Linked DNA regions of Homo sapiens: region 1 is linked to region 2. The links come from fine-mapping of genetic effects on gene expression. A gene starts in region 2. The other region holds a variant in brackets. All regions are shown on one strand. Distances are from middle to middle.

Region 1 (2,920 bases), 510 kb after region 2:
GGGAGCAATAAGGATGAATGGGTACAGCATAGAGGATTTTAGGGCAGTGAAATACTCTGTATGATACTATAATGGCAAAAACATGTCATCATACATTTGTCCAAACCCATGGAATGTACAATACTAAGAGTGAGACCTAATGTAAACCATGCATTTTGAGGTCATAATGATGTATCAATGTAAGGTCATCAATTGGAACAAATACATCTTTCTTATGGGGCATCTTGATAATGGAGGCTATGCATGTGGGCGAGCAGGAGGTACATGGATTATTTTTCTACTGTCCTCTCAATTTTGTTGTGAACCTAAACCTGCCGTAAAAATAAGGTCTTAAAAAAATTACAACTCTCCATGCTTACACGACTCAACCTATCCCCTTGTCACTGCTTTATTTCTATTCATATCACTTATCAACATCTGACATATGCATATCTGTTTATTGTTGATGGTCTATCTCTCCCCACTAGAATACAAGCCCCATGAGAGTGTAGAAATTTGTCTATTTTGCTCACTGCTAATCTCCAGAATCTGGAAAATTACCTGCCACATAGTAGAGGATCCATAAAAATTTCCTTGTTTGAATTAAAAGCCAAAGTACTGGGTTATAATTTCACTGTAAAAATATGCACGTGTTTTCTCATTAAGGGGAAAACAGACTAACACTTATTGAGTATCCACTAAACACTATGTTATGTGCTTTTCATGTGTTCTATTATTTAATTCTCAAAACAATTCTCAAAACATTCTCAAATGGAATAGATATGATTGTTATGCCCACTTTATAGATGAGAAACTGAGGCACAGTACAGCTAGTGACTTTGCTCAAGGTCAAATAGCTTAATTTGTATTGGTGATGCTAGGATTTGAATCCAAATTTATCTGAATTCCAGGGTTGTATAATTTCTGTAAATAACCTCCCTGCCAGGACTAATTATTATTTAGTAATTAACTTACTACTAAAAGAAATCGTTATTAGAAATTAACTTACCAAATTAGTTCTTATTTTAATGGGTTTTGAGGAGCGAAAGGGGTAAGGAGGGACTCAAAAACAGAAAGGAGAAGTTTCAACTTGTTTGGCTGATGAGTTTCAGGGTAGCACTTAGGGATAGCAGGCTTTGGTGGGAACAGACACCTGTGGGGAAGAGTCAGAGTTAGTGTCACCAAAGGAATCTTCTCCTTCACAGTTGGACTTATCACTTAGGCTTGGCATTAAGGCTTTGGTGTGTAGCCCAGAACCAAAGTAGAGGCATTCCAGTCCATCATAGGGGAGTTAAAGGACTTGCAACTATTATAAGATGTGAGGTAATAGATATGTTAATTTGCTTCCTTTAGTCATCCTACGATGTATACATATATTAAAACATCACATTGTACCTCATAAATATATATAATTATTATTTGTCAATTTTTTGAAAAGGCTAGAGATATTGTTCTTTTGCCTGCACTGGGTCCCACACATTATAGCTTACATTTGTCTCCTGCATCCTAGCTCTGTGCTTAAACTTACAAAGGGGCAAGGGCTGTGGCAACGGCTTTAACAGTTCACCATCTTTTGCCCAGTCTTGGGGTAGCAATGAGACCTTTAGAGGTGCTAAGCACTAAGGTTATTCCTCCTCTCCCCCTACCATAAAAACATCAAACCTTAAAACAAGTAAATGAAAGTTTTAAAGTTCTCTAATTTTCTCCCATATAATGAAATCAATGATTTTTTCCTTTATTTATCAAACACCAATATCTTTCAGAAGTGTTCCTCTTGGTAAGAGATCAGGTGGAGGATA[G/C]CTGATTTGTTGGTGCCTTAAGTGGTGCTCGTGTACCTTTAGGTAATCTAACACTGTGGGGGATGTGATTAAAGGGGCAAAACTCTCCAAAATGATTTCCCCGCCTGCCACAGAGCTGTACATTCATGAGCTCTTCTTGGGGATAAAGCAAGGACCTCTGTTAACATTCAAAGGCAGTACTGCTATACACATGACAACCCATTGCAAACAGAGAGCAAAGATCCAAGTGGCTGGAGCAAAAGGAACATCAAGTTTGAAGGGTTAGAAGAGAGGAGGGGAAGGTTTGAAGTGTGGTTTGCTGGTAGGAAAGAGAGAGCCTAAGTGAGATGAATAAGTGGGAACCTTTGGGCAGCCAGAGGGAGGCCTGAGTTCTCAAAAGCTGGGTACCTTGATTTTGTATCCTGAGACTTTGCTGAAGTTGCTTATCAGCTTAAGGAGATTTTGGGCTGAGACAATGGGGTTTTGTAGGATACAATCATGTCATCTGCAAACAGGGACAATTTGACTTCCTCTTTTCCTAATTGAATACCCTTTATTTCCTTCTCCTGCCTGATTACCCTGGCCAGAACTTCCAACACTATGTTGAAGAGGAGTGGTGAGAGAGGGCATCCCTGTCTTGTGCCAGTTTTCAAAGGGAATGCTTCCAGTTTTTGCCCATTCGGTATGATATTGGCTGTGGGTTTGTCATAGATAGCTCTTATTATTTTGAGATACGTCCCATCATTACCTAATTTCTTGAGAGTTTTTAGCATGAAGGGTTGTTGAATTTTGTCAAAGGCCTTTTCTGCATCTATTGAGATAATCATGTGGTTTTTGTCTCTGGTTCTGTTTATATGCTGGATTACATTTATTGATTTGCGTATGTTGAACCAGCCTTGCATCCCAGGGATGAAGCCCACTTGATCATGGTGGATAAGCTTTTTGATGTGCTCCTGGATTCAGTTTGCCAGTATTTTATTGAGGATTTTTGCATCAATGTTCATCAAGGATATTGGTCTAAAATTCTCTTTTTTGCCTGTGTCTCTGCCTGGCTTTGGTATCAGGATGATGCTGGCCTCATAAAATGAGTTAGGGAGGATTCCCTCTTTTTCTGTTGATTGGAATAGTTTCAGAAGGAATGGTACCAGTTCCTCCTTGTACCT
Region 2 (2,920 bases):
CAGGGCTGAAGACACTTCATTAGTTGAGCCAGTGGAGAGTGGGGTTTGGGTGCTCTCATTGGATACTTCCATCGTAAGTGATGCATACTCACAGGACATTAAGCTTTGCATTAAAAAAGATTGTAGACTGGGAAACAATAGAATTAGACAAATGTGAATGAGTTAGAGTCCTTACTTTATTTTCTCGGAAGCTTGAAAGGGGTGCTGTTCATTGAATTTTTGATTTAGCTATTTCTGCACTGTGGGTTTTTGTTATGTATTTAAATGAATTGTATAATAGAGGTAATGTTGAAAAAAGATTATATGAGGTCTGCTTGTTCCATTAGTAATGTTTGCCCCGTTTGATGCTTCTAAATTGTTATTTACAGCAGTAAACTGTTTCCCTTTGTGTGTGTGTGTGTGTGTGTGTGTGTGTGTGTAATGTGATTTAATTTATAATATTTCAGGTATGAGTTTTGTAACCAAGTTTATAAATGTTCTCAGATTTTTGTAGTGTGCATCCTTCAATGGGTATCAACATCATGTTTTATTTTCTTGAAATAAGTTTTCTCTGCCAGGCACAATAGCTCATGCCTGTAATCCCAGCAGCTTGGGAGGCCAAGGCAGGAGAATCACTGGAGTCCAGGAGTTGGGACCAGCCTGAGGAAACATAAAGAAACCATGTTTCTCACACACACACACATACACACACACAAAATACAAAACTTAGCCAGGTGTGGTGGTACGCGCCTCTACTCCCAGCTACTTGGGAGGCTGAAGAGGGAGCATCACTTGAAACCAGGAGGCAGGGGTTGCAGTGAGCTGAGACCGCACCACTGCACTGCAGGTGTGCCACAGAGCAAGACTCTGTGTACCTTTGTCTGAGGTAGGCAACCCGGCCACTTAGGCGGGCAGACGCCCTCTGTGATTGGCTGACATGATTCCAAGCAACAGGATCATCCGATCACCTTCAATGGAGGGAAGATTGCTGAGAGGCGCCCTTGGTGACACTTCATCCAATCAGATGTCGAGTTGGAATGTGACGTAGAGCCATGCGACCATACCAAAGTGCCCCCCACTTCCCTGGTCCCCAACCGTCACTCTCTGTTCTTGCTATCTAATGGCCGCTGCTTCCGCCATGGCTGAGGCTTCCTCTGAGACAACCTCGGAGGAAGGCCAGAGCATCCAGGAGCCCAAAGAGGCCAACTCCACGAAGGCCCAGAAGCAGAAGAGGCGAGGGTGCCGAGGCTCCCGCAGGCGCCACGCCAACCGCCGTGGGGACAGCTTCGGGGACAGCTTCACCCCCTATTTCCCCCGGGTGCTGAAGCAGGTTCACCAGGGCCTCAGCCTTTCCCAGGAGGCCGTGAGTGTCATGGATTCTATGATCCATGACATATTGGACCGCATCGCCACCGAGGCTGGTCAGCTGGCCCATTACACCAAGCGCGTGACCATCACCTCCCGGGACATCCAGATGGCCGTGCGACTGCTGCTGCCGGGGAAGATGGGCAAGCTCGCCGAGGCCCAGGGCACGAATGCCGCCCTCAGGTACACCAAAAGCAAGTGAGCTGTCTCAGGAGCGCCTGAGCACCTGGGAAACCCAAAGGCTCTATTCAGAACCACCGCCCGTGGCCCTATAGGCCAGTGGCCCGCCAAGGGGGGGACCCCACCGGAGGTTGGTGTGGGTGGCACCGTTCCAGCTTGGGGGGCATGTGCCGTGTGGCCTCCTGCGGTTTTTCAAGCATTTTTCCCACAGTGCAAAACACTGTCAACTCCAATATATCTGTAGTGCAATATGCTCCAAGGAAAAGTAGGGGGTGTTTCCGTAATCGTGTTTCGTGTCCTCAGTTTCCCAAATGGCCGTTTTTCTTAGTTATCTTTCTAGGTTATCTTTATGATGATGTTATCAATGTACTGATGTTTACCTTTTTCACTCTCATTCTCCTACGACTGGATGGTGGGATTTTCCAGAACTTCATTATGTGCGATATGGCAACAGAGAAAGTGAATATGCTGATACAAGAAGCAAGGTAACCCTCCTAAATGTGTTCAGCATCTCTCTCATCATGAATCCATGTAAATAAGCAAACGAGGCCCAGTTACAGTATATATATGGCTAAATAAAATTTTCAAGAATCCATTCGTTTTCCAGCTTCCCCGACTCTGAGACCACTATTGTAATTCATTCTCTTTTTGTACTGACAGTAATTTTTTCATTTCTTTTTGAACAGAAACCTTCCTTACTTCCAGGTGTGTGTCAGTAGGATTACGGAGTGTCCACGGAAACAGCTCATGCCCTAGTGTACAGTGGTACAGCCAATGAGTGACCTGCAGTCTATGAGCAACAGTCATTGACCCAATGTGGGGGGAGTGACCCAAGCTGAACCCACAGCAGCCTTCCTGTTATATTCAACCTGGTGTTTAAAGGAACGGCAGTGTGATTCTTTACCTGATGTTTTTGTTTGCATTGCTTGTAATCATGATCTTTTAGGGATATGAATCCAAAGCTAAGATTAGAATATGTACCTTGTCCCTAACATCAAGTTATACAGAACATTGGCAACCATTAGTAGAAGTCAGATAAGGCTTATTTCCTCAAAAGATTAGCATATTTATATTCATGTTAATATTAATATAGGCTACCTTTCATTGTGCTCTCTTCTGGGTCCCAAGTCTTGGCATTTTAAGCATTTTTTTCTATAAGTGTATTGCTGAATTTCAGAGCAGGTGCTCACTTTCCCATTGCTTTCCTTTTCCATTGATTTCCAGTCGCCCGAGTATGTGGACAAGAGAACATACTCTGGGACTGCAACCCACAGGAATTTATTATGTTGTGCCTTGAAGCTCAACATGTGGCCATTTTTGTTAAATGTTTCCCGTAAATTTTGAAACATCTCATAAACAACCCTTCTCCTTCATATGTAGAAACCAGTAAAGGATG

What was found. PIP is the estimated chance that this variant, and not a neighbour inherited with it, causes the effect. A credible set is the group of variants that fine-mapping cannot tell apart.
Region 1: its variant is the best candidate, but not a certain one, in a credible set for the expression of H2BW2 in nucleus accumbens (GTEx, PIP 0.69).

Annotation. Positions count from the first base shown.
Region 1 is chrX:104,545,532-104,548,451 of GRCh38, forward strand. No RefSeq gene overlaps it. Among named protein-coding and RNA genes, the nearest start is that of IL1RAPL2, 19 kb to the right of the region's middle. The variant G/C (reference allele first, on the strand shown) is at 1,779.
Region 2 is chrX:104,038,878-104,041,797 of GRCh38, forward strand. H2BW2 (H2B.W histone 2) reads left to right here and starts at 1,079. Exons shown (of 4, transcript NM_001388464.1): 1 at 1,079-1,527; 2 at 1,951-2,009; 3 at 2,211-2,229. The coding sequence starts at 1,118. The coding sequence ends at 1,987.